Linked DNA regions of Homo sapiens: all the other regions are linked to region 3. The links come from fine-mapping of genetic effects on plasma protein levels. A gene starts in region 3. Each other region holds a variant in brackets. All regions are shown on one strand. Distances are between the middles of the regions. Region 1 has its middle 38 kb from the start of CD38. Region 2 overlaps BST1 (bone marrow stromal cell antigen 1). Region 3 holds the start of BST1 (bone marrow stromal cell antigen 1).

Region 1 (9,955 bases), 37 kb before region 3:
TTATTTCATCTTCCACCTCCTACCACTATGAAAGAAGTACAGCCCATGGAAGGTTTCTCTGGATTTTGAAGGCAGCACAAGCCACATTTAGGAATATGGTTCTGATCCGTTAGTCATGTAACTCAGAAGGCTCTTGATTTTGAATGACCTCAAGAACAAGAGAGGGCTCTGCAGACAGTCCAGAGCCTGGATCTTGACATTTCAGTCATATTACCTGGAAGAAACCATGATTTTAAAGGCAGGGCCAACTACATAATTTTGGGGGCAATGCAAAATGAAAACGTGAAACACTTTGTTCAAAAAGCAGAAAAAAAGTACAGCTAAGTTAAATATACTGAAACAATACATTTTCCTTTAAAAATATTATATTACTGACAAAATGTAATCAGAGTAATAGTTATCATGAATTACAACATAAACCTACAAATTGCAAGAAAATATTGGTGTCATAATTTTATATTTGTATGTAATTCAATGTATAATATGTAATTTTATATGATACAGTAAACAGTAATACTTTCTTAATGTGACACCTTGATTTATTATGAGATTTCTCTAATTCATTCTTCCATAAATGTATTAGGTATCAGAATTTATGCTTTTTGCAACTTCTTTATTGATCAATATAATTGAATGTGATATAAAACACTTTTATTACCTGCAAAGTTGCAGATAATTTTAATAATTTTAAATTTTGGAAGAATTTTCTGCTAATAAAACTGTTACTGAAATGCTAAACATGTTTTATAGCATTGGAATAAATCTGAAAAAATATTTCATTATATAAATTTTAGCATGTCTAGAAGTGATGACTTACAGAAAACATTTTCCAAAAAATTTAACTCTTCATATCAGTTCTGTATAAGTCTGAATTTTTATTTGAGCTTTGAACATTCATTATCCTTGTTTCTAACACGATTTTCAAATTTAGATAATTTTTGTAATGGCTGTTTTTAACAAGTGGCTTGCAACAAAATTCATGAAAATTGAACAATCAGCCCTCCTGAGTGGGTATAGGCCAGCTCCAGCACTCCTCTGCCCCTAAGCCTCACGATTACAGTGTCCATCTTATGATATTGGCCAAAGGGAGAAAGTCTTGGAAGTGCTGCTTATTGTTGAACTTTCTTTTGGAATGTGATATGGTTTGTCTGTGTCTCCACCCAAAATCTCATCTTAAATTGTAATCCCCATAATCCCATGTGTCAAGGAAGAGACACCAGGTGGAGGTGATTGGATTATGGGGGCGGTTTCCCCCATGCTGTTCTCCTGATGGTGAGTGAGTTCTCACAAGATCTGATGGTTTTATAAGTGTTTGGTAGTTCCTCCTGTGTCATTCCCTTTCCTGCCACCTTGTGAAGAAGGTGCCTTGCTTCCCCTTTGCCTTCCACCGTGATTTGTAAGTTTCCTGAGGCCTCCCCAACCACGTGGGACCCTGAGTCAATTAAACCTCTTTCCTTTAAAAATTACCCAGTCTCGAGCTGCTCTTTATAGCAGTGTGCCAATGGACTAATACAGAAGGTATGGGAGAAAGCAGGGAAAGGAATCTGTAGGCAGACTGCCATAAAGGAACCACTATTCTTTTCACTTAAATTCAGCTTTCGGTGTAAGTCTTCTTTCTTCCTCATCTGTATACTACACAGAGGCCCAGAAGGTGAAGGGATTAGTCAAATGTCCAGAAAAGGAAAAGATAAGAGGACAAGATCCCATCCCCCAAGGAAAGAAAGACTCTAATGCAGAGGGAGCAGGAGCTGTGATGGAGATAGCCACTGCCTCTCTCACCCTCCATTCCCATCCCTTGGCTCAAGAAAGGCAGATGTAGCAGAGTGGGACAGATGCTGTTTACTGGTCTGACCAGCGTCCCTAATGGAAGGCTCAGACAGAGCCTCCTATCAGTCCTGGCTCCCATCTTCCCTTTCCTGGGAGCTCATGACTCACACCAACAGAAAAGAGTGTCCTGAGCAGGGGAGGCAAAGCCAGGGTAAAAATCTCAGAGTTGGGATACAAGAGGGGCTCAACATGTGAGATTGCTAGGCCATCCAGATAAAACATCCATTAGGGCAGAAGACAGACTGTTTCCCTGCACAGACCACTCTGCCCTTGCCAGAAATAGGAGGGGCAGGAGGAAGAGCTTCCCGCAGAGGCTCCCAGCTGGGCCCTTTGTGCCATCAGCATCTCCCAGATGTTGCCCTCAGCTTCCTTAACATTCTGCTCTAGGTAGGATTTTTTTCTGTTTTAGTTCTTTAATTTTTTTTTCTTCTGCTATTTTCTGACTTTCTAACAGTTTATTGTGAACTGCCTCCTTGGATTGAAGAATAAACATTCTTCATCTTCATACATATATCCTACAGCTTCATACAGATTAGTCTCATCCACCGAAGTCATGATCTCTGCATCTGTAAGATGTGCATGCTTTTTTGTTCTGTTTAGCTGTTTGGTCGGTATGTCTGTAAGCTTCACCTTCTGTTGAGTGTCAAAAACTTTGTCTTGAAGCTCTGTGAAGATCCATGGGGGTTACCATCTTGGTGTCTGAATTTTATTTTAAATGTAAAATTATGCAAGGGAATTTTGATGTTTCCTCTGACATTGTAATTTGTGGAAGTTGGTGCAACAAACTGAAAGTGGGTTCATGATTTTCACATACTTCAAAAAGGTCTGTTTATGCATCCTTTCACTGTACCTTAAAGTATAAGGAAAAATTAATTTCAAAACTGTCCTCCTTGTAAATAAGTGGCTCATCTGAAACTTCATATTAATTTGTTTTCTTTCCATCCCATCTCTGCTGCAGCTGGTGCCAGTTGCCATCTCAGGGCAGGCCCAATGTCCTCCTGGGAGCAGTCCTGAACCCATGACTGACAAGTAGATAAATATCTCAACCTCCTTCTGTCTCAGATACAATCAGTTCGAGGTGCATTCTGCACTGTATGCCTTAGTTCCCCAGCAGGCTTCAACCCCAGTTTCCTTCAGTGATAACAGCCTGATAACACTGTATTGGCTTCCTGCCATCCCTAACTCAATTCCCACTTCTTCATCAGTGTTTCCTGTACCTTCAGGTAGTTTATTACCTCCCAAATGAACTCCCTGGACTTATCCTCTGTCACAGGTCTGCTTCTAAAGAAATTCAAAGTCAGTCAACAACTTTGTCTTTGTCTATTTAGTGTTGCTGTAACAGAATACCTGAGCCTGAGCAGTTTATAAAGAAAAGAGGTTTATTTGGCTTAAAATTCTGGTGGCTGGAAAGTTCAAGATTAGGCATCTGTATCTGGTGAGGGCCTCAGGCTGCTTCGACTCATGGTGGAAGTGGAAGGGGAGCCAAAGTATGCAAAGAGATCACATGGCAGTAGGGGAAGCCAAGGAGGGAGGGAGACAGGTGCCAGGCTCTTTTTAACAGCCAGCTCTCAAGGGAACTAAGACAGTGAGAACTCACACACCCATCCCCAAGGGAGCACAGTAATTAATTCATGAGGGGTTGACCCCCATGACCCAAACACCTCCCAGTAGACCCCACCTCTGAACATTGCCACATTGAGGATCAAATCTCAGCATGAAGTTTGGAGGGACAAACATTCAAACCATAGCAAACTTAATCTGGCTTAAATAATAAAGAGGATTCCTTGATGAGCAAGAGAAGAGACCACCTTCTTCTCCATCTCAAACCCTGAAAAACTGCTTCTGGGCTTGTCACAGCTTTGGCAGCAGAGCTGAGCATGTTAAAATAAAATGGAGTTTTATTTGTTTGTACTGTATGTTGGTGAAGGAGGCAGCAGCAACAGAGACCGGGGCGTTATGCACCAACCATATTATGCATCTGGAGATTCCCAGAGCAGCAACTGGGACAGGGACTACTGAATCCCTCAGACTTTAGGCCATAAGCCAATGAACATTTACTGTAAAAGGTGAGATAATACTTTTCGCTTTGCGGGCCATGCAACCTCTGTTGCCACTGCTCAACTCTGCAATAGCTCAGAAGCGGAATAGATAAGCACAAACTAATGAGCATGGCTGAGTTCCAGTAAAACTTTATACACTAAAATTTGAGCTTCATGTAGTTTTCAGACGCCATGAAATAATGTTCTTCTTTTGATTTTTTTCAACCATTTAAAAATGGAAAACCCACGTGTGTCTTTGGGGTTGTACAAAAGCCAGAATGGGCCCCTGCTATGGGCCATTGACACATGCTCTCAATAAGGCTGTGAATTAGAGGTTTCCCTGCACACAATGTTGTAAGCCCCTTGGAGGTTTGGAGATTCCAGCATCTATGACTGATTTTTCATGAAGGTTATTGAGGATGTGAACAGAATGTTTCAGTACTTTCCCCATCCATCTGCCTCAGCTTTCCTCTTCCTACCCTTCCTCCCTTATCAGGAAGCACTTCTATAATAATAGGATTGCTAGGAGCACAGAATTCTCGGGCCATGTTTTACTCCTGGACAAGGTTACTCTACTCCAAGTATGGTGTCCTCCCTGGCCTGTCCACTCTAGCTGTAGACAGGGATGGCCCCTAGAGGGAAGCCTGCCAATCCAGCTGTTACATAATGACAGCTGATCTCCAATCTGTGATTCTACTTGTCTGTAGCAGCCCCGTTTGACAACTTTGTTGGAGGAGGAGTGAGTAACGGCCAAATTCAATCTTTTGTCGCTAGATATAATACCAAAAAAACTGTCACTGCTCTTCCCAAGACTCCTAATCAATATCATCAGTAAATATTGGCTGAGTAAATATATGCAACCTCTGTCACAACTACTCAACTCTGCGGTTCATGACGGATAATGAACCCTGTGGACCCCTCACGAACCACGGAGTTGAGTAGTTGCGACAGAGGTTGCATGGCCAGCAAAGCTAAAAGTATTACTTCACCTTTTACAGAAAATGTTCATTGGCCTATGGCCTAAAATCTGAGGGATTCAGTAGTCCCCGTCCCAGTTGCTGCACTGGGAATCTCCAGACGGATAGTTTGGCTTGTAAATAATGCTCCAGCCTCTGTTGCTGCTCCTTCTTCACCAACATATAAGAAATAAAATTACATTTTATTTTAATATCCTCAGCTCTGCTGTCAAATATTTGTTATAATTTAACAAATTAATAAATTTGTTAAATAAGGTGCAAATGCTGAAGACAAACTCAGTAGTTGAGAACATAAACCTTTGTATAGATTAGTCTCCCTACCTGAAAATATTTCCAATCCACCCCCTCACACCTTCACCTCTCATCTGGCTAATAGCTCTCGTTTTTTCAGGTTCAACTTAAGGAAGACTTTCTCTGGAAAGCCTCCTCTCCCGATACTAGACTATGTTAGGTTTCCCCCAGTGCACAATCCCAAAGGACTCTGTTTCATCTTCATCCCACAAATGAAAGTAGATAATAACTACTAATTTAGGCCCGACATGGTGGCTCATGCCTATAATCCTAGCACTTTGGGAACCCAAGGCGGGCAGATCACTGTGGTTAGAAGTTTGAGACCAGCCTGGTCAACATGGCAAAACCCCGTCTCTAGCAAAAAGAATACAAAAAATTAGCCAGGCATAGTGGCGTGTGCCTGTAGTCCCAGCTGCTAGGGAGGCCGAGGCATGAGAATCACTTGAACCTGGGAGGCAGACGTTGCAGTGAGACGAGACGGTGCCACTGCACTCCAGCCTCGGTGACAGAACGAGATTCAGTCCCCCCTGCCCCCAACTAATTTAGTTATCAGCCAGTGAGGATCAGGAGATACACTCTCTCCCTGTCTCTCTCTATCCTTATCTCTCTCTCTCTCCCTTCTTCCCTCTCTTTCTCTGTCTCTCTCTGTTTCTCTGTCTGTCTGTCTCTCTCTCTGTCAATGTCTCCCTCTCCTTTTCTCTCTCTCACCGACTTCCCTCCCTCCCTTTCTCCTTCCCCCTCCTACCACCAAATTTTATTACTAGCAGCAATGGTGAACAATGACTTCACTCTGATTATATTTCTGTACACATCTTTTTACCCTACAAAATTTAATCGAGTTTAATGTGTTCCCCTGAGAGCTTGTCACTGTATGTTAACTATTTTAAAATTTTACAAGCACCATCTTAGAGTTACTGTGTCACATGTCCTATAGCAAAGTCATGAAGGTGCAGCTGGCACAAGTCAAATGAAAACCCTTCTACTTTTGTGCAGGGGAGAAATACACACACACACACACACACACACACACACACACACACACGGTTTGGCTTCTTAACATGCATTTTTCTCAAATAAGTAAGTCATTTCAGTGAAGAGTTTGGGTAATTCTGACAGCTACCCTTTAATAGCTACATGATAAAAGAAGTTCCAAAGAACCAAATCACGTAACAAAGAATACATGTGCTTTAGAGAACCTGCTGCATTCTACATCTTTTAGGGGGAAAAACAAAACTATATTCCTAAAATTCTAAGCGGAGTGATTTAATACATATACGTTTCATATTGAAACATGTTTTAAAGAGACTACCAAGAAAACACAAATACATAAGACTTCAAGTAATGAGTAATTATGGTGAAATTAGCATAGTTCAGATTTTCCAACCTGCTTCATTGGTTATGCATGTGGGTGTTTGAAACCCTTGCCAGGTCTTTAAAAACAAGCTCCCAGTCTCAGCAATAGCTGTGCCCTGTTCTCCAGCATGGGCTTTCAATTTGCCCTTCTCTTTGGTGCCAAAAGTCTCCTGAGAAGAGTAAGGCTGAGTTCTGGGTTTCAAATGCCTGTGAATTAAGTTCTAGCAACTGCAGAGTCTCCAATGATGATTCATTGTCCTGAGTTCCACTTTCTCACCCTGGGAAACTTCAGAAAGACTGAAATGGAAATGAGCATTAGGAGCTAGGTCCGCTTGCCTGGGCTGTCTCTCAGGTTAGTGGAACTGGGATTACTTCTCAATCAGCCATGTTCATTTGGCACCTTTGGCAAACCTCAATTTTCACAGCAGGAGAAATAAAAAAAGCTAGTGTTCACTTGGCACATGCCTGCTTCTAGTCTTTACTTTGGAAATTTTCATTGTTGTGTTAGCTTACCAGGGTGGCCATAACGAACTATGAATTTGAGGGAACACAGTTCCGTCTGTAACAATCGTGTGGAAGCTGAACTTCAAACAGGTAAGCTATCAGCTGGCTAACGTGTGGTCATTCCCACTTCCCATCAAGGTTTTTTATTTTTATTTTTATTTTTTTATCAAACTCTCTTGCCTTCCAACATATATTTTTAAATCAAACAATATTTAGGAATGTTTTTAGGATCTTTTTCTCCTTTTATACTGACCAACATCATAGACTCCTCACCCTGTTTAACATCTTTGTATTCTCCGGTCTTTGTGAATGTCCCTCTGCTACCTTACTAGACACACCAGACTGACCGACTCTCTTATCAAAGAATGACTTATAGACGTCATTATTCTTTTTCCCAAGTGTCTGAAATTCCTTTTCAAATTAGGCTTTCATTTTTTTGAATAGGCTTTAATGTTTAGAGCAGTTTTAGGTTCACAGCAAATTTGAGCAGAAAGTACAGAGCTTCCCACATACGCTCTGTCCCCACACATACATAGCCTCCCCCACTGGCAGCATCCCCACCAGAGTGGTGGAGTGGTGCATTTGTCACAACTAATGAACCGACATTGAAACATCATGGTCACCCAGCCTCTGTAGTTTACCTGAGGGTTCACCCTTGGTGTTGTACCTTCTGTAGGTTTGGACACATATATAATCACCTGTATCCACAATTCTAGTATCATGCAGAGTATTTTCACCACCCTAAATATTTGGGAGTCCATTTTATCCTGTTTCCTCTGAAGCTTGTGGAGAGCATTCATGTGGACGGAGCTGGACTAGGCAGGCATGCAATTGACTCAACTCTTGCCAGAGCCTCTGGAGATTTCGGCTTCCTTGCTGTGGGAGTGGAAGGCATTTACATCTTTGGACTCTCTGACAGTCAGTATCTTCCCCATCATGGTTCCCACAGTTTCCTGTTCAGGTTCAGAAAGT[A/C]CCTTGTTACCAAGTCTATCGTGCTAGAGGGAATACAGCCAAGTGTAAGGTACCTGGTACCTACGACAGGAGAGGAAAGAGAACTCAGTTCTTCATGTGCCCACCCAGTCCTTGTGCTCAGGGGTCTTCCATGTGCATTTCTCTTTTGGTCAAATGCTTAGCATTGTTCATTCACTTGGTAGAAGAGCATTAAGTACCCATTAAGTGTGCCAGGCATGGAGCTGGTGCTGGGACCTGTTTGTTGAAGACACACGAGGCTGGTTTTCTTAGCTGCTTTTGCCAGGGCTCCCTGCTGCCCCCTTGCTGCCCAGACCATGGAGGAACCGAGGCCAAGAGAGGTGACCTTGGCCAAGTAAGAAAAGCTTTCTATGTCTATGTTTTCTCATCTGTAAAATAGGATAATAAGAGAATTGATCCTATGGGGTCGAGTGAGGATTGAAAGGGGCCATTTATGAAAATACTTCACACAGTGCCCAGTGCACAGTAACTTCTGATCTGCAGAGAGTGCTGTATTGCAGATGGTGTTTAGACAGCTATCAAACAACTCTAGTAGTAGTAACAATAACACTAGCAAATAACACTTATACAGGGCTGATCTACTATACTCCTGGCACTGTTCTGGGTTCTTTATGCACATTCGCTCATTGAATTATGAGTACTTATAATCCCTACTTACACACACGGTGATGCAGCTCAGGTAAGGTAAGTGAGTTGCCCAAGGCTACACAGCGAGCAAGTGCTGAAGGTAGGATGTGGGCCAACCTGTTAGGTGCCAGAGTCCATGCTCTTGGCCACAATGTTAGGCTGCCTCCCCATTTCCTTTGTCTTGATTCCCCAAACCCAAGGTTCTCACCCAATCTGATCAAATGCTGACTAGGTCATGGCTGGTCAGGGTAAAGCATTATGACAGACACAAAGACAAAGAGGTAAAGTTGCTGTCCTCAAGAGAGAGAGACATAAAAACAAATGGATCTGGAACTAAGTAAGGCTTCGAGGAGGAGGTGAGCAAAGGTACCAGATCCAAAGGCTTATGTTGAGAATACGGAACTGAGAGAAGGTTCATGGAGAGTGCAGTGGGGTCTCCTGGGACACAGACCTAGTAAGGCAGTTTAGGGGCAAATGGAAAGATCTTGAATCGCAGATTTTTTTTTTTTTTTGGAGACAGAGTCTCACTCTATCACCCAGGCTGGAGTGCAGTGGAGCAATCTAGGCTCACTGCAACCTCTGTGTCCTTGGTTCAAGCAGTTCTCCTGCCTCAACCTTCAGAGTACCTGGGATTACAGGCACGTGCCACCACGCCCAGCTAATTTTTGTATTTTTAGTACATACAGGGTTTCACCATGTTGTCCAGGGCTCCTGACCTCAAGTGATCTGCCCACCTTGGCCTCACAAAGTGCTGGAATTATAGGCAGGAGCCACTGCGCCCGGCTTCTTGAAGAGCAGATTTTAAAATTTGAAATTTGTCTTGCCAAGGGTAGGAAACCATTGCTGATTTTGAGCAAGAGGACGATGCACTCAGGACCCTAGCGTAGGACATTGCTCTGGCAGCATTGTGGAAGTTAGGCTGAAGGAGAAACCAAGCAGAAGCAGAGAGATCAGTCAGGAGGCAATGATATGTTTGAAACCCATGATTTACCTTGTACAAAGGCTAGAACCGGCGGTTGTATGGTTCTGCTCTGGGTCGCACTCCTAATGTCCCACATAGCCTCTTGGGTCTATAAATATAAATATGTGCATAAAAACACATAGAAAAATGTCTGCTACTCTGCGTGCAGTATGACAGATGAGATTTGCCTTCTTCCTAATTTTTCTGTATTGTGTAGATTTTTTTCAAGTAAAGAGCCATTATTACTCTTATATTCGGGAAAAAAGTGAAGTTATGTTTAGTTTTTAAAAATAAAGCCTTATTTTTCTTATGGAACTCAAAATGGCATTTCTCTAATTGAGTCGCAGGTCACTGTGCTGTGAGTGGCTAAGTCGCCTGGTAACCCA
Region 2 (9,955 bases), 25 kb before region 3:
TTGGATTCATGCAATCACCACCACAATCAAGACACAGAGCAGCTCCATCGCTCCCAAAATTTTTCTCAGTGTCACTTTGCAGTCAGCGCCTCCTTCTAGTCCTGATCATTCTCAACCCCCACAATCACTGGTCTGCTCTCCGCTACTATAGTTCTGCCTTCTCGAGGATGTCATATAAATAGAATCATACAGTTGGTGGCCTTTTGGTGCGGCAGCTCTCACATTTGGGTTTCATCCATATTGCTGCATATATCAAGGTAGTTACCTTTATTGCTGAGTAGTATTCCATGGTGTAGATTTACCAGTTAGTTTATTCCTTCACCATCTGAAGGACATGTGAATTGGTAAACATGGCTTTTACTTGTTGAATGATACTCCATTCTACAAATATTCTAAAACCCATGTAAATAGTTCTGATATGGTTTGGCTCTGTATCCCCACCTAAATTTCATATTGAATTGTGATCCCCAGTGTTGAAGGTGGGGTCTGGTGGGAGGTGATTGGATCACGGAGGTGGTTTCGGATGGTTTAGCACCATCACCTAGTGCTGTCTCATGACAGAGTTCTCACGAGATCTGGTGGTTTGAAAGCATGTAGCACCTCCCCCTTCACTCCCTTCCTCCTTCTCTGGCCATGTAAGACATGACTGCTTCCCTTTTGCCTTCCATGATGATCGTAAGTTTCCTGAGGCCTCCCCAGCCATGCTTCCTGTAAGCCTGTGGAACAGAGAGGTGAAGCCAGCTGGACTTCCTAGGTCGAGAGGGGACTTGGAGAGCTTTTCTGTCTAGCTAAAGGATTGTAAATGCACCGATCAGCACTCTGTGTCTAGCTAAAGGATTGTAAATGCACCAGTCAGCACTCTGTAAAAACACACCAGTCAGCACTCTGTGTCCAGCTAAAGGATTGTAAACGCACCAATCAGCACTCTGTGTCTAGCTAAAGGATTGTAAATGCACCAGTCAGCACTCTGTAAAAACACACCAGTCAGCACTCTGTGTCCGGCTAAAGGATAGTAAACACACCAATCAGCACTCTGTGTCTAGCTAAAGGATTGTAAATGCATCAATCAGCACTCTGTAAAATGGACCAATCAGCGCTCTGTAAAATGGACCAATCAGCAGGATGTGGGTGGGACCAAATAAGGGAATAAAAGCTGGCCACCGAGCCAGCAGTGGCAACCAGCTTGGGTCCCCTTCCACATTGTGGAAGCTTTGTTTTTTCGCTCTTCACAATAAATCTTGCTGCTGCTCACTCTTTGGGTCCGCACTACCTTTAATAGCTGTAACACTTGCCGCGAAGGTCCGCAGCTTCATTCTTGAAGTCAGCGAGACCACGAACCCACCAGAAGGAAGAAACTCCAGACACATCTGAAGGAACAAACTCTGAACACACCATCTTTAAGAGCTGTAACACTCACTGCAAAAGTCCATGGCTTCATTCTTGAAGTCAGCAAGACCAAAAACCCAGAGGTTGTCACAATTTTGTCACAATTCTGGACACAGAACTGTGAGTCAATTAAACCTCTTTTTTATTTTTATTTTTGTAAATTACCCAGTCTCGGGCAGTTCTTTATAGCAATGCAAGAACAAACTAATACAAGTTCCAAACAGTTTCAGTAAATATGTAAATATTACTGGATATTTTGGGTTTTTCCCTCATTATAAGTAACTATTATGGCTGGATGTGGTGGCTCACGCCTGTAATCCTAGCACTTTGGGAGGCTGAGGTGGGTGGATCACCTGAGGTCAGGAATTCGAGACTAGCCTGGCCAACATGGTGAAACCCCATCTCTACTAAAAATACAAAAATTAGCTGGACATGGTGGCAGGCACCTGCAATCCCAGCTACTTGGGAGGCTGAGGCAGGAGAATCGCTTGAATCCTGGAAGCAGAGGTTGCAGTGAGCTGAGATCTCCCCACCTCACTCCAGCCTGGGCAAAGGAGCGAAACTCTGTCTCTCAAAACAAAAAGGAACCATTAACTGAACATCTTTATACCAAATAAATGAAAAATGAAAACTTTGCAGACCATATATGCATACATTTATATAGTATACATATGTCTTAAGCAATCAACAAGCATGCAGTGTCCGTGCTGCTGGAGATATAGGAAAATATAGATGATGTAAAATACAGCTTTATTAGAATTCTCTTAAAATGTTTGATAATATACAAGCAGTCTGACTCCCAATGCTTTGTGTCATTATACAAATAAGAAAATAACTTGCTTTAATTCTAATGCAGCATTTTTTAACCTGCTAAATAGAACTAACTTCTTGTTTCTGAAATCCTGAACATATGCCTCATTGAAATACCATTTTCAGGACATCGTTTTCCCAGCAAAAAGCTTCTTTAGATAACAGAATCATTTGGTATACACAGAACACGAATGATGACTGCAAGGGGAGGCTGCAGGGCTGGAGGAGGGTTAGAGCAACACAGTTTCCAGTTACAGTTGAGTCCTGGAAGCCAGCACCAGAAAGAGGGGAATGATAAGACCCGCCCTTTGTTCTGTATAAAGACTTGGGGCTTTTCTTTGAGTAGCGGCTGCTGCCCTGCAAATTAACAAGGAAATAGAGAAAGTGTCAGTATTGGTGTATGGAATCTACGCTCAAAAATATATGTGCAGTATTAGTCTCTTTTCTGGTTAGCGCGGAGCGAGAAGCCATGAGCAGCAAAGTCTCCCGTGACACCCCGTAGGAGGCGGTGCGCGAAGTCCTGCACCGAAACCAGCGCAAGCACCCCAAGTTTCTGGAGATGGTGGAGTTGCAGATCAGCTTCAAGAACTATGACTCCCCAGAAGGACAAGCGCTTCTCGGGCACCGTCAGGCTTAAGTCCACTCCCTGCCCCAAGTTCTCCATGTGTGTCCTGGGTAACCAGCAGCACCGTGACAAGGCCAAGCCTGTGGATTTCCACCACATGGAAAACGAGGTACTGAAAAAACTCAACAAGAATAAGAAACTGGTCAAGAAACTGGCCAAGAGTATGATGCATTTTTGGCCTCAGAGTCTCTGATCAAGCAGATCCCACGAATCCTCGGCCCAGTCCTAAATAAGGCAGGAAATTGCCCCTCCCTGCTCACACACAAGGAAAACATGGTGGCCAAAGTGGATGAGATGAAGTCCGTAATCAATTTCCACATGAAGAAGGTGTTATGTCTGGCTGTGGCTGTTGGCCACGTGAAAAGGACAGACAATGAGCTTGTGTGTAACAGTCACCTGCCTGTCAACTTCTTGGTGACATTGCTCAAGAAAAACTGGCAGAAAAACTGGCAGAATGTCCGGGCCTTATATATCGAGAGCACCATAGGCAAGCCCCAGTGCCTATATTAAGGCACATTTGAATAAATTCTACTGCTACCAGTATAAAAAAAAAAAA[AG/G]CAAATTGTGCACACTGTGGAGAAATGTACATAGTATATAGGAAGTTATAAAGTGGAAAGTAAAAGTCTCTTAGTCTCCCCATTTGCACTTTCCATAGAAAACCAACTTTGATAGTTTGAGTTCTCTTTCCAGGAATGCAATGAACACATGCATGCTGAACCTGCTCAATATAACTAATTCCTATTTCTGCAATCCTGAGCACACACGTCATTGAAATACCATCTCAAGACATTCTTTCCTGAGCAAAAAGCTTCTCTAGACAACAGGACCTGCTGCTGCCCTGCAAATTATCCTTAGATGTCTTTAGATATCCTTTTATCTAAGCACAAATGGAATCTGCAACGTGCGTTCTTCACCTAACATCATATTTTGAACATGCTTCCATATTGGTACACAGGGAGTTAACTCATTCTTCCTTGTGGATGAATTCTTATTGTACGGATGGAACACAGTGTTAGCCAGGTTTCCTACTGATGGCTATTACATGATCAGAGTTTAAGTGGTGAAGAAAAACCTGTCCTGACATGAAGACATCAACAGAGGGCCTGCCCAAAATATGGACCCTATTCATAGTAAACAGTATCTGGCCACTGGGTTTGTAAAAACAGAAATTACTGAATTCTTTTAAACCAACTAAAAGATGAATTTTAAAATTATGAAACCATCTAATGTTGGCTTGGAAATATATCCCATGGCTCTGGACTAGTGGCCCTGTCCTTAAAAGTTCCTGACTCCATTTGAATGCTGGTCCTCTCTTTTTTGCTAAAGAAATCTGACCCACAGGTTTGTATTAGTGCTCCACCTACCGGACATTTTCTACAATTGCACCTGTGATGCAGTTAATGTCCCAGACTCGATTCACTCAAAATTTAAAATTACTTTTGCTTTCAAATAATTAACTAATTAACATAAGGTTACATTTTTCTTTACTTTTTTAAAAAATAAAATAACACATAATTAGATACACTAATAATGACAGCCTCCCTTCATCTTTTTCCAGTTTCTATTCCTTTGCCTAGAAGGAACCCACAGTTAGGTGCTTGGAGTTTACTTTCTCAGACCTATTTCTATCACTTACATCCATTATCATGCACAAATAGAAACATGCTGTTTTGCTTTCTTCTGGTTTACATGTCTCGGTTCATGTTCTGTGCATTGGTTTCTCACTTTGTAGCTTAAAAACCTTTTCTTGTCAATGTGAGACTATACTTGAGGGGGTAACTGCACTATTTGCAGTTACTTTGATTTTTAAAATTGATTCTTGTTATTACATTTATATACTCAAAAGCCTAATTTTCCCATGCCCTTTTATTTAATTTATAAATCACATTGTTCTATTTAAAAACCTGGTGAACTCTGACAATAACTCTTAAGGATTTGTCACACTTACTTAATTCCTGTGATGTTTTAAACTCAAGTTATTTCAGGTTAAGTTATTATTATTATTATTATTCTTTGAGACAGGGTCTCATTCTGTCACCCAGGCTGGAGTGCAGTGGCATGACTACAGCTCGTTGAAGCATTGACCTTCCCGGGTTTAGAGAATCCTCCTGCCTCAGACTCCTGAGTAGCTGGGACCATAGGTGCACACCAACATACCCAGCCAATTTTTTGTTTGTTTGCTTGTAGAGGCGGGGTCTCGCCATGTTGCCTAGGCTGGTCTTGAATGCCTGGGTTCAAGTGATCCTCCCGCACTGAACTCCCAAAGTGCTACGGTTACAGGCATGAGCCACTGGGCAAGGCTTCAGGTTATTTTCAACTTAAATATTAAAATATTACATCTTTTTTAAAAAATATTTTAAATGACTTTAAATTAGCAAAACTTTCTCAATTACTTGATTGTAGTAAACCTAATAAATGTATAAAATTTAATCTTAATTCTTTTACAAATTCCAATACTGGTTCAAAACTTAGTAAAATTCTCTTATAACTTCCTACTAAAAATCCCAAGCCTAAAATCAGTTACTTGGCTGAGCATGGTGGTTCACACCTATAATCCCAGCACTTTGGGAGGCCAAGGCAGAAGGATCACCTGAAGTCAGGAGTTTGAGACCAGCCTGGCCAACATGGTAAAACTTCATCTCCACTAAAAATACAAAAATCAGCCAGGCGTGGTAGCTCACACCTGTGGGCCCAGCTACTTGGCAGGCTGAGGCAGGAGAATCACTTGAGCCCAGGAGGTGGAGGCTGCAGTGATGAGCCAAGATCAAGCCACTGAACTCTAGCCTGGGTGACAGAGCAAGACTCCATCAAAAAAAAAAAAAAAAAAAGGAAGGAAGGAAGGGAAAAGAAAATTTTCCAGTAGTGCTGGCTTGCTCCTGTAGTCTCAGCCACTTGAAAGGATGAGGCAGGAGGATCACTTGAACCCAGGAGGTTGAGGTTACAATATGCCATGATCACACCACTGCACTCCATGCCTGGGTGACAGAGCGATAACCTGTCTCCAAAAAAAAAAAAAAAAAAAGAAAAAGAATTAGTTACTTAATAGTAACCCATATACTGGCATCACAGGTTTAATCCAACAGCTGTTCTTATATGCTACATTCTCTAAAATATTGCCAATAATTAAATACCAAAACATACAGATTGTCCCTAAATTTACCACAAAACTATTAATAAAATGGGTGGATTTACATCAACAGTTGTTTATTTCATTTGAAACCTTTGCAGATTAAAAGCCCTTTACCCCACTATTCCTAAACAAGTAGAGATGAGTAGTCCTGTCTCTGTGGCCTGGGGCATTTAGGATAGAGCCTTCCAGCTAAGTTAAAAGATCTGATGTTTGCCTTTGGCCCTTAGTGCCACACTGAGTCCTCATTCCAGTACTATATGTCTGTTTTCTCATATCATCACCAATCCTGCAGATTAAAAGTCTACTGAATTTTTGGCCAATATTATAACCTATAAGCGCTAAGGTTGGTTTTTTCCCCTTGGATTATTCATGGGGTCTTCTGCTTGCTGTATGATTATCCTACCATTGTCTTTAAGGGCTATATTCTACTCCCTCCAGTAAGTGTACCCTTTGATGTAACTGTTTACTTGTCAGTGGATATTTGAGTCCAGTTCCCAGTATTTCAGTATTATAAAGAATGCTCTGGAGAACATATTTGAGCATATAGGCTGTATGTGCATTTCAAATCACTTGTTTGGAATAGGGCACCAAAAGTACCCTAAAGTGTGACCTAGGTCAAAGACTGTGATATTTTTCTAATTCTTGACACATATTGTCAAATTGTTTTCCCAAAGCACTTTATCAATTTACAGTGACATCAAGCATTGAATAACATCTCTAAAACATTTTTCTGCTATGTTTTAATGTATGCCAAGAAAGTTTAGGTGAAAATGACACCTTGTTGAATTTGTTTTCCATTATTATTAGAGTGATTAAATAATTTTGTATATTTGCTATTTGTGGTTTCTCTTTTGTAAATTATCTATGACTATTCACAGCTAGAATGTTTAAAAAATAGATTAGAAAAATTCCTGCCAGGGTGATGAAAGTTGGTGAAAAACTTGGCAGAGTGAAAGAGAGTTTTATCCTTGACATTCAAAGGAATCAGCCAGAATTGTCAAAAATGTCTACCAACAGTCACTGAAAGAATGCCCACACACAGGGAAGAACAGGTCAGGAACTGCAAACCCCTTACTTACCTGCTGTGGTGTGAGACCCAGAGACATTTTAAGGCAGTGTGGTGTGGTAGGAAGAATGAGAACTTTACACACAGACAAATCTCCGTTTTGCTTCGGCCTCTGAGTAACATTAAATGATCACTTAATCCTTCTGAACCTCAGCATCATTGATGACAATCAAACTGTCTTCCTTCTAGGAATGTGGTTGGAGTAAAATGAGATGATGACTCCAGAGTGCCAGCTGGAAGCCTGACACTGCAAAGTGCTCAGAAATACTGAGGAAAACTCGGGAGGCTGAAGCAGGGGAATTGCTTGAACCCGGGAGGCGGAGGGTGCAGTGAGCCGAGATCACGCCACTGCACTCCAGCCTGGGCAACAGAGCGAGACTCCATCTCAAAAAAAAAAAAAAAAAAATACCGAGGAAAAGTGAGAAGAGCTACCCTCGTTCTCCTTATTCTTCCTGCAGCAGGGGAGCTAACCCAAGGCACTGGTGCTAGGATGGCACCATTTGCCCATTTCAGGAATGGTGGTGTAGGGTGCAGTGGGTTTTACAACAAGGAATTTTACATGGTCTGTTTCTGTATAGGTTGACAGTCTGATTAATGAGACAAAGAGTAAAACCATACAAACCTAAGTAATTCTAACACCACAGACACTTCCCTATCCAAGACTTATGAGGTTCCAGGCTCCTTAGAAAGTCTATACCACTAATCTTTGCAACAACTTTATTCCCCCTTTTCCACATAAGTGAGCCACACAAGGATTCTTTTTCTTGCAATCAAAATGTAGACCTTATGCATATGCAGCCTCTGGGCACTTCTCTGAAGGTGTTGTAGAGCATTTGTCATTCCTTCTGGCTGCCCAGCACCTTTGAACATCGTTCTTCTTAAATCTATGCCTTTCCAGGGTAGAATCCAACCATTCATTCGTTCATTCATCTATTCATCCATTCATTCATTCCTAAGTGTCTACCGAGTTGCAAGTTCTGTTTTAGGTCCTTAGAATACCATCATCAGTGAAAAAAACAGGTCAAAGTCCCTGACCTCCTGGAGCTCATGTTCTGACAGGTGGGAGGCGCTAAAGAATGAATTTGCCAGCATGGGCAATATAGTGAGACCTCATCTCTACAAAAAAAAAAAAAAAAAAACTTTAAAAGTTAGCTGGCGTAGTGGTAAGTGCCTGTATCCCCAGCTGTTTGGGAGGCTGAGGTGGGAGGATCACGTGAGCCCAGGAGGTCAAACCTGCAGTGAGCCGTGATTGTGCCACTGCACTACAGCCTGGGTGACAGAGAGAGGAGAGAGACCTCGTCTCAAAAAAAAAAAAAAAAAAAAAAAAAGACCGCACTTCACAAGTAGGTCAGTCAGAAGATAAACACTATAAAAAAGAAAAAAAATGCAGTCACATGAGGGTTTTGAAGAGCCACAGTTGTGAGATGGAGGCTATGATTTTAAATATTGAGATCAGGGATCAGGGTAACCTCATGGAGGCTTTGTAGATAAGAAAACTGACAATTTCAGATCATCTGACTAACTCAGTAAGAACAGAGTGCTTACTACTGCCAAAACGGTGTTTCCACAGGCTGATGAGCAGGAAAGCATATGATATCTTATGGGAAGTGGATCAAAACTAGCCTTGAAATAAACATTCCAGATGAGAAGCTGTGGGTGACGTGTCTGGAAAGAGTATGATGAACCTGGAAGATGGGACTAGAAGTCTGAACTTGGTAGTAGGTAACTTTGAAGGTTTTTGAGCAGCAGCGACATGAGGGTGGACTTCATTTTCAGGTGAGGAAAGGAAAGACCCAGGTTCACAGGCTATCCTTTACCTCCTGTGAAAGGACTCAGAAACGATGCATGCCAAATTCACAGGGAACGAATAGCATTAAAGAATGAGGAGAGGACTTAAATCCATCACCGAACCCTGGGATGTTGGCTCCTAGAATACATGCTGGAGATGATGGGTCTGTTGTCCTAATTTCCAGCCCAAAGAGCAAGACATCTGCCAGAGTGAATTTTGACAGTTCTCAGACTCCTTCAGATCCTGGTTCTGCCTGCACTAGCTGGGTGGTCTTGGGTGAGTCCTTCATAAACTTCTCTGAGCCAGAGTTTCTTTGCTTCTGAAGGGAGAATATGAACCTACCCACATTGGATCAAATAAAATCTGGCTTCTGTCTAAATGACAGTGGCTTAGAGAAGACAGATGTTTATTTCTCTCTCAGTAACTCTTCAGGGCTGGTAGAGTGATGCCATGGTACAGAGGCACCCGGCTTCCTTTTGCTGTGTTACTCTGCCACGCCCAGTTGAAGACGCTCACCTCCACATCTTGTGGGCCCATATACCAGCCAGCATAAAAGGAGAAAGGGAATGTAAGTCCCTTCCTTTCAAGTGCTAAACCCAGAAATTGCACATGTCACTTGGCCACAGTGGGTAGAGAGGCTAGGATCATTATTCTTGATAGCCATGAACCATCTAAAATTCAAGGGTTCTATTACTAAATGAAAAAGAGAATAAGAACTATATGGGGATGACAAGCCAGCTCACCAGTGCATGTGCTCTCTTTCTCTCTCTCTCTCTCTCTCTTATTTTATTTTATTTTTTGAGATGGAGTTTCACACTTGTTGACTGGGCTGGAGTGCACTGGTGCAATCTCGGCTCACTGCAACCTCTGCCTACTGGGTTCAAGTGATTCTCCTGCCTCAGCCTCCCAAGTAGCTGGGGTTACAGGCACGCACCACCACTCCTGGCTAATGTTTTGTATTTAGTAGAGATGGGGTTTCACCATGTTGGTCAGGCAGGTCTTGAACTCCTGACCTCAGGTGATCCACCCGCCTCAGCCTCCCAAAGTGCTGGGATTACAGGCATGAGCCACCACACCCAGCCTGACTCTCTTTAATGTACTGGTTATTCAGATAAACATACTATTTTATGTAGTGCACACAGCAAATGC
Region 3 (9,955 bases):
TATGATCTCGCCTCAGTGCAACCTCCTTCTCCAGGGTTCGAGGGATTCTCCTGCCTCAGCCTCCCGAGTAGCTGTGATTACAGGCATGCACCACCATACCTGGCTAATTTTTTTGTATTTTTAGTAGAGTTTGGATTTCTTCATGTTGGCCAGGCTAATCTCGAACTCGTGACCTCAAATGATCCACCCACCTCGGCCTCCCAAAGTGCTAGGATTACAAGCGTGAGCTACCATGCCCGGCCTGATATTAGGTTAACTTTTGAAGTAACTCTGATACCCAGGAAGGATCTCCAGTCTTCATAATGGAAACACTCCCTAACCTCCTTTCCTTGCTAGCCTCCCTTCTGAAGCTTCCCTGATGATCTGGTGGAGGCTGGTGTCTCACTCTGCTACTCCTCGAACACCATTTTTCCTGCATTATAGCCCATATCACTCGAGCTGATATCCCCCATGAGGCTATAACCTCCCTGAAGATGGGGACTGCTGTGTCTCCAGCTCCTAGCACCACAGTTGGATGAATGAGGAGTGTTTGCAGAACATTCAGGCCAGCTCTTGTGACTCTAACTTTCCTTGTGACTTGGATCTCGAAATATCTGCCGGCGGCCTGGAGTGGTGTTACAGAGCACAGGCTTCAGAATCCATCAGGACAGGACTGAGACCCAGCCTTACCACTTCCAGTCATTTAACCTCCCTAAGCCTCAGCTTCCCCCTCTGGACAAATGAGGATAGTAAGGCAGAGTTGTGCAAAGTTGAGAAAATGGGCTCTGGAGTCAGACTGTCTGCTGCTTACTAGCTATGCCCCCTGAGCAGATTTCTTAATCTTGCTGTGCCTCAGTTTCCTCATTTATCAAAATGGGGATTATGATAGGATCCCATGAGGTTGTTGTGGGCATCAAATGAGTATGTGTGTATATATAGATATAGATATGTATAGATATGTATATATATGTGTATATATATGTGTATATATATATATATATATAGAGAGAGAGAGAGAGAGAGAGTGCTTAGACTGGCACCTGCAAAGTTAAGTATTCTCTAGTATTGTTATTATTAACTATTCTTGCCACTTATCTCAGAGGACTTGGAGAGGATCAAGTGAAATAAATGCATATGAAAGCATTTAGCACAAATGGTAATGCATAGTAAATAGGAGTTCTTAAGTCTCCTGTGATTTGTGCAGGAGTCTTACCAGAGTCATTTTTCTGTCGACACCAGCTCAAGAAATCTGCAACCCTGCCATACAGAACATCGCTCAGGGGCATAAAACGACGGGTGTTGTCTGCAAAGCTGTTAACAAGGAGGTGGCTATTTTCCCAGAACAGGGACTAAGGAAAGACAAACAAAACATCAAAATACAAAACAGAATCAAAACCGACTCCTCAGGCACAATATCATCAAGGCAAGTTGGGCAATCCAGTTCTCATTCAACTCTGACCTGCTGCACAACAACTGAACGTTCTTTTTCGTTGTCTTTATTTATTCATTCAAAGACTGCTAGCATCTCTCCTCCCTTTATTCCCAGGGTATCATGCAAATGTTAATGGAATATTTTCTCACTAGTACTAAATATACGTGCATGTGGTAAGATCCCCTACATTAAAAATGATCAAGGGAACTGGGCTGGAATCCTGGCTCTGTCATGTATTAGATATGTAATCTTGAGCAAGGCATGCAATCTCCCTGTTTCTCAGTTTCTACTTCTGGAAAATGCAGAGCATGAGCCCTTTCTCTTCTTCCAGAGCTGTGGCCAGGATAATAAGCAGTCACAAAAAGCACTTCCTAAAGTGTCAAGTGCCTCAAAAACACATTGCTTTTATATTATACTTTATAGTTTCCACCATAGTGTTTTTATATAACAATAACACAAATCCCCCAGTCACTATTTCATCTGACCCTCAGTAGTCCAATCAGTTTATATTTAGACTAGAAGGTCCCCAAGGGTGAGGGCTGTTTTTCACTGTTACATCCTTAACCCTTAGCACCAATGACTGGCAAACAAATAGCCCCGGAAGTATTTACTGAGTTCATCAACTAGCACCGAATCTATGAAACAGAAGGTTAAAAAGTCAGCTTCCCCACTTTTAGTGACAGGAGGGCAGCAAGGTTCAAAAGACAGCATATACTCAAAAATCATGTTTTCAGTCTATTCTATCTTTGAACCTCACAGTTCCATTTACTTGCCTTTACAAATAACACACAATGGAAAAAATCAGGTTAACAATGTTTATGTCACAGAAACAAAAATGGTGTCTAGCATTCCTTAAACTTGAGGTATTGTTTTAAGCAAGGGTTTTATGGAAATTTTCTCATTATTTTCATTTTATTAGACCTGAGAGTGTATACAGAATATAGATATGTGGTTTTCTTAAATAAACTGGTACTAAATAAATATAATCTTAAGACCCGTTAAATGGAGAGACTGGTCTCCCGGGAGGATACTGAGATTGAGAGTTTTCTGAATTACTCAAGGTTCAGGCCATTGGGCCAGTTAGGATGAAGGTTATTTAGAACTGGCCAGATGTGGAGGCCCAGTGTGACAGGTATGGCCATGTCCTGATGTCCTCATGTTGATTCTCACACTAACTTGCTAACTTAGGAAATTTTCTTCTGCCCACAACCAGCGGGAGATCTACAATCACTATTGGAAACTGATATGATTTGGATTTGTGTCTCTTGTAAAATTGTAATCCCCTATGTTGGAGGTGGGGCCTGGTGTGAGGTGATTGGATTATGGGGGTGGATTTCCCCCTTTGCTGCTGTTCTCCTGAGGGAGTTCTCAGAAGATCCAGTTGTTTACAAGCCTGTGGCACCTCCCTCTGCCCTTGGTCCTGCTCGTGCCATGTAAGACACCTGCTCCCACTTTGCCTTCTGCTGAAGTAAAAGCTCCCAGAGGCCTCCCAGAAGTAGATGTTGCCATTCTTCCTGTACAGCCTGTGGAACTGTGAACCAGTTAAACCTCTTTTCTTTGTAAATTACCCAGTCTCAGGCATTTCTTTATAGCAATGTGACAACGGACTAATACAGAAACAAAGCTAGCTTCCCACAGAGAGCTCAGCACACACATTATGTGTGCTGCCTGATGTTTCTGTGACATTGCAGGATGCAGGGGACAGCTAATGTCAACCTGGCCCATGCACCATCCATTTCTGTAGAGACAGAGAACACAGTTTTACCCAAGATGGTTGTGGTGTTACCTTATCTCTGGGAATAGAGTGCCTGGACAAGTTAATAAAAAGGTCATAGTCTGAGGGCAGCACGGAGCAGGGATCCTTGTCCAGCGCCACTTTAAAGGCTTCCCAGATGGCTGTGCAGTTCTTGTTCCTGTGCAAAAGTACAAGTTGGGAAGAACACACACATGCACATCATAATGTGTTGTGAAGTATGCCCATTTGTCTAAGAGCTTTACAAGAGATTTTTCATATAGTAACTGCAGAAGTAGGCTTACAAAAAAGACAACGAATTGTCATGGCTTAGGTGACAGATTCAGAAATCTGACACTGGAATTGTCTCTCTGAAGGCACTGCACAGATTTCTCAGAGCTAAGGAATACAGCCTTGCCCCAGGCTCACGGAGACAAGCAGAAATGGCACCGAGCAGGAGGTGACAAATTCAGTCAACTATACAGCAGGTGCCTCTTCATTTAGACCTAACGGTGGGGCCAGTCTCATAGTCCAGTTCCAGTGTGGAGCTCGGGGACCAGGTGAGGCCAGGCCAGCCAGCAGGATGTGTAGTGTTAGGAGGGAGGCCCAATGCTGCAAAAGGCTTCCACCTCTGGCAAAGCAGGTGCACCCTCCAGTGCAAGCCCCTCTTGAGGTCCATGCTAGTTTTCAAAAAATATTTCCCATAGCATTTGTAACTTTGTTTCTCATACTGGGTGGTGTGTAACACAGGTGGTTCTCTGCTGTTTCTTATTTGCCTGAAATGTGCGACAATAAAAATGATCAGCACAAGAAAGACATCACAAACATAAGAAAAGGGGGGCCACAGAAGGAACAAAAATCAGTAAGAAATGCAGCACTGGCAAGAAAGACCCAAACTTCAGAAATCCTCCAGATTTAGGGGATCTGAAATTTGAATTCTGGAAGGACTGGACTCAAGGAATTCCAACCTGAGATCACATTCTGGGTTCTGAGTATTCAGACTAAACATCTGCTGGGTGGCAATGGGCTGTTACCCAGTTCACCTCTACCCCACCCTCACTTCTAGAGGGATACCTCTCCACCCTCCTTCACACTCACACACACCTCTCACCTCTAGACCACACACACATCCCTCACCTCTAGACCACACACACATCCCTCACCTATAGACCACACACACACACCTGTCACCTCTAGACTACACACACACACCCCTCACCTCTAGAACAAACACACACACATCTCACCTCTAGAACACACACACAACTCACCTCTAGAACACACACACACACACATCCCTTACCTCTAGAACACACACACCTCTCACTTCTAGAACACACACACCCATCATCTCTAGAACACACACATCTCACCTCTAGAACACACACCCCTCAACTCCAGAACACACACACACCCCTCACCTCTAGAACACACATACACACCTCATCTCTAGAACACACACTCTCCTCAGCTCTAGAATACACATACACCCCCTCACCTCTAGAACACACACACCCCTCACCTCTAGACCACACACACATCCCTCACCTCTAGACCACACACACATCCCTCACCTATAGACCACACACACACACCTGTCACCTCTAGACTACACACACACACCCCTCACCTCTAGAACACAGATACACACACACCTCTAGAACACATGCACGCACCCCTCACCTCTAGAACACACACACACACATCTCACCTCCAGAACACACACACCCCTCACTTCTAGAACACACACACCCCTCACCTCTAGAATACACACACCCCTCACCTCTAGAGCGCACGCACACACACCCCCTTCACCTCTAGAACACACATGCACACACCCCTCACCTCTAGAACACACATACAGACACCTCACCTCTGGAACACACACACCCCTTACCTCTAGAACACACACACACATCTCACCTTTAGAACACACACACACACCCCTCACCTCTAGAGCACACACACACACACACACCCCCACCTCTAGAGCACACACACACACATCCACCTCTAGAGCACACACACACCTCCCACCTCTAGAGCGCGCGCACACACACACCCCCCTCACCTCTAGAACACACGCACACACCCCTCACCTCTACAGTGTGTGTGTGCGCGCACACACACACACTCATCTCTAGACCCCGCACAGCGCACCCCTCACCTGCAGACACACTTCACAGCCCCCTCCTCACTCGCCCCCATCGTTCAGGACCATCGCTGTCTCCACACTCACCTCTCCCCTCAAGGCCTCTCTCATTGCCCCCTCACCCCGAACTTTAGCGCCAGTTTTCCCCTCCCCAGGCCCTCCCCACCGTTGCCTCTTTCCGGCTCCCCTTCCACCCGGCCGACTGCCTCACCGCTGCTCGGGACTCAGCAGTGCGCGGTACTCGGCGCAGCGGCCCAGGAAGATGTCCCGCAAGTGTGCGCTGGTGCCCTCCCCGCGCCACCGCGCGCGCGCCCCGCCCGCCGCCAGCAGCAACAGTAGAAGCAGAAGCTGCAGCAGCAGCTGGAGCAGCCGCGATGCCGCGCACCCCTGGGCCGCCATCGGGGAACTTTGGTCCCTCCAGTCCCGTGCTTCCTCCACTCCCCTTCTCTCCTTCTACCAAGGCGGTTCCGCAAACTGATGCAGGGCGGGACTCTCGCTCGGATATCTCGCTGTTTGCCGTTTCCCGTTCCAGACAATTTCAAGACTGAGCGTGGGGCGGGGCGCGGCGGCTCATGCCTGTAATCCCAGCACTTTGAGAGGCCTAGACGGGCGGATCGCTTGAGTATAGGAGTTCGAGACAAACCTGAGTAACATACAGGTGAGAAACCTCCTCTCTACAAAAAAATACAAAACTTAGCTGGTCCTGGTGGTGCGCATCTGTAGTCTCAGCTACCTGCGAGGTGAGATGTGAGGAGGCTTGACCCCAGGGGATCGAGGCTGCAGCGAGCAGTGATTGCACCACTGCACTCCAGCCCTGGGCGACAGAGTGAGACTCTGTCTAAAAAAAAAATTAATAAATAAATAAAATTAAAAAAGAGTGAGCTTGGAACATCACCCAGGACAGGACCAGTGCACTGTGGCCCAGGCTAATCTTGACCGCTGTCCACGGGGAGGGAGCCCCAAAGAAGCCGCAAGGTTGAAGGAGAGGTGAGGAGAGGTCAGTCATCATCAGAAGAAATACTTTTCTGGCTCCAAAGGACGACAACTTTGACAGATGCCCTCTTTCACACCAACCAATAAGTGGTGTTTGTTTGTTTTCAGGAAATAATAACCACAACAACGTGCCAAGCACTTTGCAAGTATAATATTAATTACTTTCCGCAACACCCTTCCTAGCTAAGTTTGTAATTTCTCTCGCTTTAGCAATGGATAAACTCAGGGAAGTTAAGCATGTTCGGCCCTCCAGATTTGCGGATTCATCATCCAAATTCAGCTAACCACGGATGAGAAACATTTGAGGAAAAAAAGAATGCTTGCATCTGTACGGAACATGTACGGACTTTTTTTTCCTTGTCATCATTCCCTAAATAATCCAATGTAACAACTACTTATGTAACAATTACATAGTACTTGATATTACAAGGAATCTGGAGATGACGTGAATTATAGAAGAGGATGTGCAAATACTGTATACTACACCATTTAATATAAGGGCCTTGAGCATCTGTGGATTTTGGTATCCAGGAGGTTCCTGGAACCAATTCTCCATGGATACCTACCGCCGACTGTAACTTGTCAGAGGTCACAATATCCCTTCCTGATAGATGCAAAATCCTGGAGATGTTCAGTTTAAGAGAGCCAGGATTGGCCGGGCGCGGTGGCTCACACCTGTAATCCCAGCACTTTGGGAGGCCGAGGCGGGTGGATCACGAGGTCAAGAGATCGAGACCATCCTTGCTAACACGGTGAAACCCCGTCTCTACTAAAAATACAAAAGATTAGCCAGGCGCGGTGGCGGGCGCCTGTTGTCCCAGCTACTCGGGAGGCTGAGGCGGGAAAACGGCGTGAACCCAGGAGGCAGAGCTCGCAGTGAGCCGAGATCGGGCCACTGCACTCCAGTCTGGGCAACAGAGTGAGACTCCGTCTCAAAAAAAAAAAAAAAAAGAGCCAGTATTAATAGAATACCACGTGGAGGCCCAAGTCCTCAATTCTTACAATAATGACAGCAATGAACTTTGAGTGCCTGGCAAGCACTTGATAAACACAAGGGAGGACAGAACAGGTGTTCTCTACTGTTTTATTTGAATCTCTTTTTTTCTGTAACCAAAACCCGCATTCTCCTGTTCAGTTCCTCCTTAAGTTAAATCCACTTTCCAGAGGAAAGCATTTTTAATTCTTTCAAGTTTTGTTCCTGTGTTTACTTCCATATTTCTAAATAACATGTGTGAACCCGCAAATTTTGAGACAGGTCTCAATTAATTTAGAAAGTTTATTTTAGCAAGGTTGAGGACACGTGTCCATGACACAACCTCAGGAAGTCCTGACGACATGTACCCAAGGTGGTCAGGGCACAGCTTGGTTTTATACATTTTAGGGAGACATGAGATATCAATCAATATATGTAAGAAGTACATTGGTTCTGTCCAGAGAGGCGGGGACAACTCGAAGCACGGAGGGGGCTTCCAGGTCTCAGGTAGGTGAGAGACAAATGGTTGCCTTCTTTTGAGTTTCTGATAAGCCTTTCCAAAGAAGGCCATCAGAATATGCATATATCTCAGTGAGCAGCTGAATGACTTTGAATAGAATGGGAGGCAAGTTTGCCCTGAGCAGTTCCCAGCCTGACTTTTCCCTTTAGTTTAGTAATTTTGGGGCATCCCTGGCATGGCTCGTCCCACCAAATCTAATGTGAAATTGTAATCCCCAACGTTGGAGGTGGGGCCTGGTGGGAGGTGATTTTATCATGGGTGTGGGTTTCTCAAGAATAGTCTAGCACCATCCCCTTGTTGCTATTCTCATGATAGTAAGTGAGATCTGGTTGTTTTAAACTGTGTAGCACTGGCAGGGCGCCGTGGCTCACACCTGTAATCACAGCAGTTTGGGAGGCTGGTGTGGGGGGTGTGTTGGGAATCACGGATCGAGACCATCCTGGCCAACATGGTGAAACCCCATCTATACTAAAAATACAAAAATTAGCTGGGCGTGGTGGCACGCACCTGTAGTCCCAGCTCTTCGGGAGGCTGAGGCAGAAGAATCGCTTGAACCTGGGAGGCGGAGGTTGCAGTGAGCTGAGATCTCACCACTGCACTCCAGCCTGGTGACAGAGTGAGACTCTGTCTCAAAAAAAAAAAAAAAAGAAGTGTGTAGCACCTCCTCCCTCTCTCTTGCTCCCTGCTGCCACCGTGTAAGACCCATTGCTCCCCCTTTGCCTTCCACCACATTTGGAAACTTCCTGAAGCCTCTCCAGATGCAGAAGCCACTATGCTTCCTACAGCCTGCAGAACTGTGAGCCAATTCAACCTCTTTTTCTTATAAATGAGCAGTTTCAGGTATCTATAGCAATGCAAGAACAGACTAATACAATACCTATATGCTATTTCTTGATGTTTCTGTTTGGGACATTATTCTGTTTGGGACATTATGACATTTTATTTGTTGTAAACCTCTTGTTTACCCTGGAGGTAATCATTATCTAGAAAGTAACTAGCTTGCTTTTGATATTACAGGCTCATAGGCAGAAGGCATTTGCCTTGTCTCAGATGAAACTTTGAACTGTGGACTTTTGGGCTAATGTTGAAGTTAAGACTTTGAGGGTCTGTTGAGAAGGCATGATTGGTTTTGAAATGTGAGGATGTGAGATTTGGAGGGGCCGGGGTGGAATGATATGGTTTGGCTGTGTCCCCACCCAAATCTCAACTTGAATTGTATCTCCCAGAATTCCCACGTGTTGTGGGAGAGAGCTAGGTTGGGGTGGGGGTGGGGAGGCAGGGTGGGAGTAATTGAATCATGGGGGCCGGTCTTTCCCATGCTATTCTGGTATTCTGGTGATAGTGAATAAGTCTCACAAGATCTGATGGGTTTATCAGGTGTTTCCACTTTTGCTTCTTCCTCATTTTTCTCTTGCCGCTGCCATGTAAGAAGTGCCTTTCACCTCATGCCATGATTCTGAGGCCTCCCCAGCCATGCAGAACTGTAAGTCCAATTAACCCTCTTTCTGTTCCCAGTTTCAGGTGTGTCTTTATGAGCAGCATGAAAACGAACTAATACAACTAGATCTCACATCCTCCTCTTTCTTGTTTTATGGAGCACATCTTCCAATAGCTTCTTGAGAAGATACACAGGGACTAAACTTTCTGAGATTTTTTGCATAAGAATTCAAAATGTCATTATTCTACCTTCACACTTAATTGAGAATTTGATTGGATGTCTGAGATTTTTGCATAAGAATTCAAAGTGTCATTATTCTAACCTCACACTTGATTGAGAATTTGGTTGGGTACATTTTTGCATTGGAAAGCATTTCCCTTCAAAATTTTGAAGACTGTGTTCCATTGTTTTCTGTGTTGCTGTTGAGAAATCTGAACCCATTTTCCTATTCCTGTTTATTTGACCTTTTTTGTTGTTGTTTGTTTTGTTTTTTATTCTTTGGCCTGTTTTTTTTCTATCTGGAAATTTTCAGAATTTCCTTCTATTCTTAGGAGTATGAAATTTCAGAGATGAAGTTGGGCAAAAGTAGTTGTTTTTCATTGTACTGGACAATCCATGAGCCCTTTTAACCTACAAACTCATGTCTTTAAATACTGAGATATTTTCTCAATTTTTTGGTAATTTCCCCTCCTCCAAATTCTGTTTTCTCTTTCTGAAATTCCTGTTACTCATATAG

Evidence for each region. PIP is the chance, under the fine-mapping model, that this variant and not a neighbour inherited with it causes the effect. Protein levels are from the aptamer-based SomaScan assay of Sun 2018.
Region 1: its variant is fine-mapped to the plasma level of the BST1 protein (Sun 2018, PIP 0.95).
Region 2: its variant is fine-mapped to the plasma level of the BST1 protein (Sun 2018, PIP 0.95).

The regions. Positions count from the first base shown.
Region 1 is chr4:15,735,776-15,745,730 of GRCh38, reverse strand. It overlaps a transcript of BST1 not described here and the pseudogene PFDN1P2. Among named protein-coding and RNA genes, the nearest start is that of CD38, 38 kb to the left of the region's middle. The variant A/C (reference allele first, on the strand shown) is at 7,964.
Region 2 is chr4:15,724,338-15,734,292 of GRCh38, reverse strand. It overlaps BST1 (bone marrow stromal cell antigen 1), which reads right to left. Exons shown (of 9, transcript NM_004334.3): 9 at 1,506-2,553. The coding sequence ends at 2,448. It also overlaps the pseudogene RPL10AP7. Among named protein-coding and RNA genes, the nearest start is that of BST1, 26 kb to the right of the region's middle. The variant AG/G (reference allele first, on the strand shown) is at 3,378.
Region 3 is chr4:15,698,884-15,708,838 of GRCh38, reverse strand. BST1 (bone marrow stromal cell antigen 1) reads right to left here and starts at 5,774. Exons shown (of 9, transcript NM_004334.3): 1 at 5,507-5,774; 2 at 3,198-3,324; 3 at 1,193-1,328. The coding sequence starts at 5,694. RefSeq lists a silencer at 5,756-5,835.